3 linked regions of the Homo sapiens genome follow. The protein of the gene in region 1 purifies or fractionates together with the protein of each later gene. This does not show direct contact. Each region holds a gene or a part of one and is shown in the gene's direction. Other genes may lie near its edges. The genes, in order: FGD1, TAP2 and HP1BP3.

Region 1 (3,729 bases):
ACTCTGGATGTTGCACGTGTGTGTGTGGCAGAGGTGGAAGATGCATGTGGGTCTGTGTAGATGTGGAAGTTGAGGAAGGTAGTACAGATTGCTGAGAAGTTGGGATTTTCTTTTTCATTTTTCTTCTTTTTTTTTTTTTTCTTGAGACAGCGTCTTGCTCTTTTGTCCAGGCTGGAGTGCAGTGGGGTGATCTCAGCTCCCTGCAACCTCCACCTCCCAGGCTCAAGTGATCCTCCCACCTCAGCCTCCCAAGTATCTGGGAATACAGGTGCACACCACACTGCCCAGCTAACTTTTATATTTTTTGTAGAGACAGGGTCTCACTTTGTTGCCCAAACTCATCTCAAATTCCTGAGCTCAAGCAATCCTCCCTTCTCAGCTTCCCAAAATGCTGGGATTACAGGCATGAGCCACTGTGCCCAGCCAGAAGTTGGGATTTCAAGAAGCAAAACTTGCTCATGAAACACAATTTCATCATTTTTAAGCACACTTAGCTGCACAAAATTGTAAACAAGAAAGTCTAGATATTCTCAGGGCCTTAACAAAAGCGTTGAAGAATGGTTTATACTCAGCATACCTATGTGGCTGTAGAAACAAGGGCTGCAAACGCATGTATAAACTTTAGGGTGCTCACAGCCACCCCCAGCCTGGTTAAACTCCCTAGTGATACTGCCTGCTGACATACATGGAATCAATGCACTAGTCACAAAGAATTCTTATCTATTGATGAAAACAGCCAGCCCCAGCCCTGGGTCTGGCTCTCCATCTGAGGGCTAGGATAGGGGCTTCCCAGAAAAACACTGTGGCCAGGAAAGGGGCTCAGAGAAACCCAATACCCCAGATAGCTGCTAAGACATGCCAGTCCTAACTTTAACCCCAGTCCCCTTTGGGTTAAAGTCAGTTACTTCACACCCATTTTCTCCCTTCCTGCAGGGCTGCACCAGGGAAACCGGATCCTGGTTAAAAGTTTGTCCCTTGACCCTGGCCAAAGCCTAGAGCCTCATCCAGAAGGTCCCCAGCGGCTTCGCTCAGACCCAGGTCCCCCGACTGAAACCCCTAGCCAGCGTCCTTCACCACTGAAGCGGGCACCGGGCCCGAAGCCACAGGGTAAGTGGTCCTGGAAAAGAGCAGAGAAGTGGCCCAGGGGAGGGTACAGAGGAGGGGAGAAGTTAGCCAGTGGCAGAGAAGAGGGTTTGTTAGAAGGATAGGGAGCCACCATGCTCCCAGGGCAGTGCTACCTACCTAGTGCACAGAGTGCTGTGGCCTGAGGCTAATGTGTGCATACTGTGATCTCACCTTAGCCCCTTTGTGTCTACCTCAGGCAAAGGTGCAGATTGGTGTTTGTGGAAGGGGTTGTGGCCTGGCCATGACAGCCAGCCACCTCCAAATCCAGCTTTTTTTTTTTTTTTTTTTGAGACAGAATCTCACTCTGTCACCAGGCTGGAGTGCAGTGACATGATCTTGGCTCACTGCAACCTCCGCCTCCTGAGTTCAAGCAATTATCCTGCCTCAGCCTCCCAAGTAGCTGGGACTACAGGCACGTGCCACCATGCCCAGCTAATTTTTGTATTTTTAGTAGAGATGGGGTTTCACCATGTTAGCCAGGCTCAAATCCAGCTCACTGATGTCTCCCTTCTCTCTTCCCCATTCGTCTCTCCAGTGCCCCCAAAGCCCAGCTACCTGCAGATGCCCCGGATGCCCCCCCCACTGGAGCCCATCCCCCCTCCACCATCACGCCCACTGCCTGCCGACCCCCGAGTGGCCAAGGGCCTGGCTCCCAGGGCAGAGGCCAGCCCCAGTTCTGCAGCAGTATCCTCACTGATTGAGAAGTTTGAAAGGTGAGTCTGGTCCCTAGGGCACCCTCTAGGGGAAAGGGGGAGCCTGGGACAGGAAGGGATAGTCAGGAGAGGCCTCTCAGTCAAGCTCATACCCTGCTTCCATGTGTGTCCACCACCCACCTCAGAGAGCCTGTGATTGTCGCCTCGGATAGACCAGTCCCTGGCCCCAGCCCAGGTCCCCCAGAGCCAGTCATGTTGCCACAGCCAACCTCGCAGCCACCAGTGCCCCAGCTCCCCGAGGGTGAGGCCTCCCGCTGCCTGTTTCTGCTGGCTCCTGGGCCCCGGGACGGTGAGAAGGTGCCCAACCGGGACAGCGGCATTGATAGCATCAGCTCGCCATCCAACAGCGAGGAGACCTGCTTCGTCAGTGATGACGGGCCCCCCAGCCACAGCCTCTGCCCTGGGCCCCCTGCCCTGGCTAGTGTGCCTGTTGCCTTGGCCGACCCCCACCGGCCTGGCTCCCAAGAGGTTGACAGTGACCTGGAGGAGGAGGACGACGAGGAGGAGGAGGAAGAGAAGGACAGAGAAATCCCAGTGCCCCTGATGGAGAGACAGGAGTCTGTGGAGGTACTGACCTGTGTTCACCGAGAGGCAGGTCCATGTGGAGAACCTGGAAGCGCCTTTTGTGCTTGATTCTTCCCCTAGCTCAGTATTTCTCGAAATAGGACCTTGTTTCCAAGCTCTGTGACACTGGGCAAGTCTTTTCCCTTTCTGCTTCCCTACCATAAGCCTCAGTTTCCTTATTTGTAATACGGAAAGTCTCTTACTTACATCCATAGAGACTTCTCAACAGCTGGAGGAGGGGCGCAAGAGCTAGAGCCCTGCAGGGGCCCGAGGCTGTGCAGATGAAGGCTCTTGGCAGCAGAGACCCCTTTCTGTGCCCGGGCAGCCTAACATTTCTTCAGAAGGCACCATCGCACTTGAGTTAGATCTCAGCCGGAATACTTGCTCTGCTAGGACCAAGCTCAAGTGTAGGGGCCAAAGCCAGGGACTGCCGGCATGGCAGGTAGTCAACACATATATCTAAGGAATAGGAAACTAGGCCAACAGGCAATGAGTTTTATACGTTCTTATACTTTTGTGCTTTTCTCACACCCCAGGTACTCAGCAAGCCCTTGCTGATAGTGTACTGAGTGGGTGAATAAATGATTAATTAACATTTATATACCATTTAATCTGTAGTCTGATGTGTTTTATTTATATTAAATTATCTAATTGTCTCCATTACCAATGGACTTCAGTCCTATTATTATTTTGTTTTGGTTTTGTTTTTGTTTCTCACCAGCCTCTACATTAAATAGATTCTATTATTATCTGTATTTATGGATGAGGCGTCCTAAATACAGAGCTGTTAAAGAACTTACACAAGCTAGTGAATGGCAGAGCTTAGGATTTGAACCCAGGAAGTCTGACTTACCATCCCACATGCTTAACCACTACACTCTGCTGAGTGAATAGAGAGAGCGGGTGAATGAGTTGTTGAGTGAGGGAGTGCACGTCATCAGAATGGAGGGGTAGGCTTTATGGTAGACTGGGGACTCAGGGATGAAGCTGAAGGACTTACAGATCTAGAGATGGGGGTCAAGGTTATCCTAGGGTGGTATTAGGCTTAGAGTGGCATGGGAACTGTTTTAAGAATTCTGGGGGCTTGGGTGAGGGTTACGATAGAGGATGATGGATCAGGGGTTACTGTTTCTCCTTTCCAGTTGACTGTGCAGCAAAAGGTGTTTCACATTGCCAATGAGCTCCTGCAAACTGAGAAGGCCTACGTTTCCAGGCTCCATCTCCTGGATCAGGTGAGTGGCCCCTTGGGGGTACGAGGGCCCCAGGACCTTGTAGGTGCGTTTCAAGGAGGCAGTGATAGGGCCTGAGTTCAATCCCACCATTGTGG
Region 2 (4,054 bases), on another chromosome or scaffold:
CAGCGCGCCCACCAGATCCTGGTGCTCCAGGAGGGCAAGCTGCAGAAGCTTGCCCAGCTCTAGGAGGGACAGGACCTCTATTCCCGCCTGGTGCAGCAGCGGCTGATGGACTGAGGCCCCAGGGATACTGGGCCCTCTTCTCAGGGGCGTCTCCAGGACCCAGAGCTGTTCCTGCTTTGAGTTTCCCTAGAGCTGTGCGGCCAGATAGCTGTTCCTGAGTTGCAGGCACGATGGAGATTTGGACACTGTGTGCTTTTGGTGGGGTAGAGAGGTGGGGTGGGGTGGGGTGGGGGCTGTCTGTGTCCAGGAAACTTAATTCCCTGGTGACTAGAGCTTTGCCTGGTGATGAGGAGTATTTTGTGGCATAATACATATATTTTAAAATATTTTCCTTCTTACATGAACTGTATACATTCATATAGAAAATTTAGACAATATAAAAAAGTACAAAGAAGAAAAGTAAAAGTACCCATTGTTTCACTTCCTGGAGATAACCATAGTTGCTATTTTGCTGCCTGTCCCATCAGTCGTTTATCTGTTGTTTGAGATAGAAATTAACCAAAAATGACATAAATATTCATGAGATTGCCTTCCTATATCCTTCCTTGTTCCTACCAGTGTCTGCTATTTTGAAGAAGCTAGGGTCTGGAGGGACAGAGAACAGTTCCCTGATTAACAGTATTAATAGCGACATTGGTAACAGCTACCATTTATAGAGTTTTAATGGGAGTAGGAGCTATGCTAAGTGTTTTTCATGTATTATCGTTTTTAATCATTATCCCCAACCCTATGAGGTTGGTTATTATCCCCATTTTACAGATGAGGAAACTGAAGCTCAAAGAGGCTCAATGACTTTCCCAAGGTGGTCGTAGTGGTGGAGTTGGAGTTTGAACACAGGCCTGACCCTAGAGTCCACACCCTGACCCAATCAATTATATTGCATCTTGGGTCCATAAACCCTAATCCATAATCCCATCAAGAAAAGCTCTGCTGCTCTTAGCTCTAAATAATTCAGAATCTATTCTCTTCTCTCCAGTCCCGTTGTTATAGTCTTCACTCATAGACTTAAGATGATCCCATCACCAGAGAGGTTTCTCTACCATTAGCTTCCCTCTTCCGGCCATTCTTCACAAAGTCATTTTTCTAAATTCTGTGTCACATACGATGATGGCATTTCTGGAAATTCCTTCAGGTGCTCTCAAGCCCTGCTGCAGAGATCCTTTTCAGAGCACACACTGTTCCAGCCCATCTGTCTCACCCTCTCCTGTTGTATCCAGCTCCACGACAAACTTCTGCCTTCCCCAACACCTTTGTGCCTTTGCATATGGTGTTTTCTTGCCCATTTTCTGCTCGACTCGCCCCTGATTTTCAAGTTCAAGACTTAACTCAGGGTTCAGGTCTTCCAGGAGGCCTTACTTATGTCGTCAGTCTGGGGAACTCTCCATGTGCTTCTATCACTGTGCGGTTACCTCTTTCACAGCCCTTTTAAAGTTCTATCTTCCCTTTCCCACCTTTTTTGACCTTCCACTAGACCATGAGCACCTGGGCGGAAAGCCATATATCTTATTAAGCTTTATATCTGCTACCTGGCCGAGGGCCTAATTCATAGTGGAGAATAAATAGTCAATTGAATAAATGAATAAATATCTCCACCATCGTACTAATCTTAATCCTCCCTGCCCACTCCCACCACTGAAAATGCAACATTGTACACATCACTGGTTGTTGGGAGGGACTTACCTTGGAAAGTTGCTATTCTAGGAAAGAGAAACCTTCATATTCCTGGAAACAGCAGGTAGTTTCCAGTGCTGGCAATGAATTCCCCAGAACTGCTGTTTTGGATTTTTTCTTGCCTGGCAGCTGTTGGGAGCAGGGTGCAGTGAGGATGGGGTGAGAGTGGGCAGTTTCTTGTGCAGATTTGCCTTTCTTTCATCCTGGGGCTGACTTGCAGCTCCACACCCATCCATCTCTCAAATTTCACAGAGGGTAAAATAGGCATTTGGAGAGAAAGAACTCTGGCCTGATTCCTTTCTCTCCCACAAATGTCCTTTATTCATAAAACAGGAATAATAATTCCTGTATCTCCCAACTACATGGAAGCTGCAGCCCTCACAGAAGAAGATGATCTGAGAAATTCTTTGATTTCCTCAGTACAGTTATACCCATGCATCATAATACTTTAAGCCTGGAAGGCATCTTAAAAATAATGCAACAGTCAAACCTAATTTTACAGAGAAACTGACATGAAATCACGCAGCTAATCATGATAAAGCTGGGTGGAAAACTTATCTTGATGGGCAGTACAGGAAGATGCAGTAGACCTTAAGATGTCCTGAAAGTTTCTTATCTCAGGGGAAACTCCCAGGTAGGCTTTATGTCAGGGACACAGAAAAATGCTCCCTGAAAGTCAAAATATTCGGGCTAGACAGACAAATTCCTGTAAGTGTGGTTTGTCTGGGAACCACAGATGTCACTAATCCTGGTTTGCTCCAGAGTTCTTTTTGTTCACTCCTACCCCCCATCACCATTTGATTGATCTCCTTACCCTGTAATTTCCCCTTCTTGTCGCTTACCTGCAGTATCTTTCCCACCCAGGCATGCCTTATTCTTTCTAAAGGAAAGTATGAATGGAGAGGGGAAAGCTTGGGAAACTGATAGATTTCCTTGGATGCCAAAACACCTCCATAGCCTGTCTGCCCGGCCCTATGTGGAAACAGCATTGAGTTTCAAGTCCTTTATGCCTCCACCCAGGGATAGCCACTTGTAATCCACATGGCAATTGTGAAACAAGCAGGAAATGCGTAATTGTCAGAATTTTGTGGGGAAAGGACTAGGGAATAAGGAAAACAAAGATCTTCCTTGTGTTTTAGAGCTGTCAGCTAGAGGAGCACCTGCTTGAGTCTGATGCCATCTAATGGTCCCAGAAGAAACTGGGTTTTGAACCTAGAGTTCCATGGACTCTTAGGAATTAGACTACTACTACTACTAAGCATTCACTGGTGCTTACTATGTGCTATTGCTGTGCCAAGTATCTGAAACCTGTCTTCTTACCTTATTTTTCAAGATAATTCTATGTGGCAGGTATTACTATCTCAATTCTAAGAGTGAGAAAATGGAGTTTTAGAAACATTTACTAACTTGCCTGGGTCACATAGCTAAGGAAGAGGTGGACTTGCCCAGCTTTGCATAAAACTCCTCAAAAGAGTTGCCTATACTCCCTGACTCCACTTATCTTCCTACTATCCTCTTTTTAAAATATATTATTTATTTATTTAAATAAGCAATATATGAATGTGGTTTGAAATTCAAAAGACACAAAGAAGTATACAGAGGAAAGCCTCACTCTCAATCCTTCTCAAGGTTTGCTAATTCCTCTTGCATAGGCAATCCGTTCTTCCAGCTTTGTGTTTATCTTTCCAGAGAAGTTTACTGTGTATTAAGCAAATATGTATATCTTTATTCTTGCTCAGTATTTTCGCAAACAGCAGCTGTCTAAGTTCACTGTTCTGAACTTTATTTTTTAAATTAAAAATATATGGCTATGTAGTATTCTATTTTATGGAAGTTCCATATTTCATTTATCCTGTTTCCTTCTACTGATGGCTAGTTAGGTTATTGGAAGTCTTTTGCTGTTGCTAGTTAGTCTTGTATAGACATTGTAATGCACATGTGCAAAAATACAAGTATGATACAATCTTAAAGGGGAGTTGCTGAGTCCAATATATACATTACAAATATTGATAGATATTGCAAAATTGCCTTCATAGAGGCTATATTAATTTATAGTTCCAGCAGCAACATATGAGTTTATCTGTTTCTCCATATATATATATATGTATATAACCAACAGACAGTGTTAATTTTTAAAATTTTGACAATCTTCTGGGTGAAAGTAGCATTGTATTGTAGTTATCATTTGCTTTTTAATATTATCATGTAAGTAACAGAGATACTAAACCCAGAAGGATAAGGGAGCAAAGATGAGAAAAATAAACACACACACAAACAACAATAACAAATCTGTCTAAAATATTGGAAAATCAGAATGAGAAAT
Region 3 (3,500 bases), on another chromosome or scaffold:
ACTACTGACTGAAAACCAAGAGGGAACAGCTTTACAAATTTCATATTTACAAAAAGAAAAACAAATAATCAAAACTGAATTCTTAATTTAAAGCATCTGCTTATAAGAAGTTGCTTTTACTGTAAAGATTTTTCTGATATTTATTGTAATTTAGATAAATCTCTAGGTTCAAAGCAACTCTAAATTATAGTGTATTTTTTCCTACTTTTGAATGTTCACCAAAAACATCTAATTTTACTTTGAAACAAAGCCAGGATTTTAGAGTACTTACTACTTATATTATTTCTTATTAACCTAAGCCCCACAACAGACAATACTTTATTTCAGTAAAGTATATTTACTCTAGGAGGTGGTGATTTGAGATGAGACACCCTGCCTTATCAGCATTATCGTGTGGATTGGTGAGACTGGGTGACTTCTCAATGAACTATTAGAAGAGGCACAATGTTGTAGGGTGAGGGATATGGAAATTAAGTAACAGAAGAAGACAATCCAGAATATATTATTGTAATTAAAAGGTAATTTTGAAGTCTTTTTTTTTTTTTAGACGGAGTCTCGCTGTGTTGCCCAGGCTGGGGGGCGCAGTGGTGCGATCTTGGCTCACTGCAAGCTCCGCCTCCCCTGGGTTCACGCCATTCTCCTACCTCCACCCCCTGAGTAGCTGGGACTACAGGCACCTGCCACCACCCCTGGCTAATTTTTTTGTTTTTGTATTATTTGTTTTTAGTAGAGACAGGGTTTCACCGTATTAGCCAAGATGATCTCAATCTCCTTACCTCGTGATCTGCCGGCCTCGGCCTCCCAAAGTGCTGGGATTACAGGCGTGAGCCGCCACGCCCGGCCTATTTCTATATGCCAGATGTTTTAAGAGAAGATGAATTTGGTTAACAAGCCTTTCAGTTTCACTGATATTTGCAGCTGTTTTTTGGATACTGAATCACCATAAAATATATTTTGGATATGTCTCTGTAAGAAAGATGAGAATGAAGGACTTCAGGAACCATGATATTGTTTTGTTACTGTTTACTGATTTATGAATAATTAGTTCTGTTCATCTTTATAAGAGATTCTCCTAGATGATTATCAATACCTATAGGTACACAATAGATGTTTAAGTGAATGGAAATAATTAAATACTTAGTTTTAGGTCTGCTGTTTATGTGCTACCTTAGAGCAAGTCACTTAACTACTTTGAGCTCAAGTCACTTAACCACTCTGGGCTTTTTTTTTTTCCCTGTGAAATAAGGTATTTGACTCAATGGTCTCTAATGTGTCTTTTCATTATAACTCTTGCCAGGTATGGTGGCTCATGCCTGGAGTCCCAGCAGTCTGGGAAGCCAAGGTGGGAGTATTGCTTGAGCCCAGGAGTTTGAGACCAGCCTGGGCAACATAGTGAGACTTTGTCTCTATATTTTGCAAAATTTTAAAATATAGATATATGTATGTATGTATGTATATAATTTAACTCTTGCCAAACTTATGGGCAATAAGTAAATGTTTAATTAAATACCTTTGAACACATAGGATTCACTTAGTGTATGTCAATTACCGTATGTGACAGGATATTAAATTGATGGGCATCTGTTTGTGGTTGAGGGAATTATCTAATCTGAATAACTAGATAACTTTCATTTCTGAATTTTTTTTTTCAGTGCATTTGCTGAAAAAAACCCTGCAGAAATGCGAAAAGAATGGGTGGATGGAACAGATCTCTGGGAAAGGGTTCAGTGGCACCTTCCAGCTCTGTTTTCCCTATTATCCCAGGTAAGTACTTAGCCTATAATAGATCACTGTAAATTTATAGTCTAAGTTACACACTCAGTTTAATTTATTTTACCCTTATTACTGTTTTAGTGAACTGGAAATACAGTCGTCCTTTGTTACATATAGGGGATTGGTTACAGAACTGCCCGCATACCCAAATGCGCATGTACTCAGCCCTGTGGAATCCATGTATCTGAAAAGTCTGTCCTCTTTGTATGCAGGCTTCGCATCCTGTGGATGTTGTATTTCTGATCTGTGTCTGGTTGAAAAAAAAAAGTCCACATATAAAGTGGGCTAATGCGTTGCCAACCTGTGTTGTTCAAGGGACAACTGTATTTGAAAATAAAGATGACTTTTAAGGCAGTATTATTTTGGAGTAAAAGGTTTTGTATAAAAATAGTGATTTTAGCCAGGCATAAGATTATTTGAGATCCTCGGATGGTCATTTTGATGTTCATTCCTTCTTTATCAAGTAAATGATAATGACAGATTCTTAGAGGATTATGTATAAGTTTTTGTTTTTGTTTTTTGAGACAGGGTCTCACTCTATCGCCCAGGCTGGAGCAGTGGTATAATCTCGGCTCACTGCAATCTCCGCCTCCTGGGCTCAAGTGATCCTCCCACCTCAATATCCCACGTAGCTGGGACTACAGGTGCGCGCCACCACACCCAGCTAATTTTTGTGTTTTTTGTAGAGATGGGGGTCTTACCATATTATCTAGGCTGGCCTTGAACTCCTGGCTCAAGCAGTCCTCTCGCCTCAGCCTCCCAAAGTGATGGGATTATATGCATAAGTTTTAATTGTCCAATACCAAGTGGGGAGAACATTGACTGTTTTCAAGAATCTTAACTCTACCTCCATACTGTAGAGACAGGAACACTTATCTGAAAATTTGTTTCTTGCAAATACCTTATTTATTCTTTGAAACAAAAAAATATATTGATCACCTCCTGTGGTCCAAGCATTGTTTCATGCACTGGGTTTAAAGCCTTTTGATTTCCAGTAAAGTACATAACATATACCACTAAGACCCTGTTTTAGCAAGACTATTGTGTAACTTTCTTATATTATTATTTCTGTACAAACATAAGTGTTACTTGGCTTAATACATATTATATAAATTTTTCGAACATTAAACATTAAATTTAATTCCCAAAGTCACACACACACAAAATGTTACATTCTGCCAGGTGTGGTGGGATGCACCTGTAGTCCTAACTACTTGGGAAGGTGAGGTGGGAGGATCCCTTGAGCCTAGGAGTTTGATTCCAGCCTGGGCAGCATAGCAAGACCCTGTGTCTGAAAAAGGCAAGAAACACACACACACACACACACACACACACACACACACACACATATATGTATGTATGTTATCATTTAAGGATATGTTAATCAAAGGAATCAAGGTTCATACCACCAAGGACAAAAAAGAGTTTAGGAGATCCTTGCCGAATACCTTTGAAGCTTTGAACAGATTTAGGCCTTTGAGGTCTTTTTTTTTAAGACTTGGAGGTCTTTTGCCAGTATTATGAGGCTGAAGTGTGTATTCCATGCAGACTGTTCATTGCTGTGTACTCATTGGCTAATACAGTGCCAGATACATATTAGGAGTTTAAGTAATTGTTTACTAAATAAATGACTATGGATTAATTTTATTAAATAGTGGGTATAGAATTAGGTATGGTGCAGGACTTTTATAGATTTGGCATAACTTTATATGTATGTTCAAAATACG

Evidence for each region.
Region 2: the proteins of FGD1 (region 1) and TAP2 purify together in Homo sapiens (affinity purification with mass spectrometry; one large-scale study listed by BioGRID and IntAct). This does not show direct contact.
Region 3: the proteins of FGD1 (region 1) and HP1BP3 purify together in Homo sapiens (affinity purification with mass spectrometry; one large-scale study listed by BioGRID and IntAct). This does not show direct contact.

The regions. Positions count from the first base shown.
Region 1 is NC_000023.11:54,468,692-54,472,420, reverse strand, and holds part of FGD1 (FYVE, RhoGEF and PH domain-containing protein 1), read left to right. Parts: intron 1-933; coding exon 934-1,107; intron 1,108-1,660; coding exon 1,661-1,838; intron 1,839-1,963; coding exon 1,964-2,405; intron 2,406-3,544; coding exon 3,545-3,634; intron 3,635-3,729. UniProt on the Homo sapiens protein: Activates CDC42, a member of the Ras-like family of Rho- and Rac proteins, by exchanging bound GDP for free GTP. Plays a role in regulating the actin cytoskeleton and cell shape.
Region 2 is NC_000006.12:32,824,915-32,828,968, reverse strand, and holds the end of TAP2 (antigen peptide transporter 2), read left to right. Parts: coding exon 1-63; 3' UTR 64-3,554; downstream 3,555-4,054. UniProt on the Homo sapiens protein: ABC transporter associated with antigen processing. In complex with TAP1 mediates unidirectional translocation of peptide antigens from cytosol to endoplasmic reticulum (ER) for loading onto MHC class I (MHCI) molecules.
Region 3 is NC_000001.11:20,745,808-20,749,307, reverse strand, and holds part of HP1BP3 (heterochromatin protein 1-binding protein 3), read left to right. Parts: intron 1-1,652; coding exon 1,653-1,764; intron 1,765-3,500. UniProt on the Homo sapiens protein: Component of heterochromatin that maintains heterochromatin integrity during G1/S progression and regulates the duration of G1 phase to critically influence cell proliferative capacity.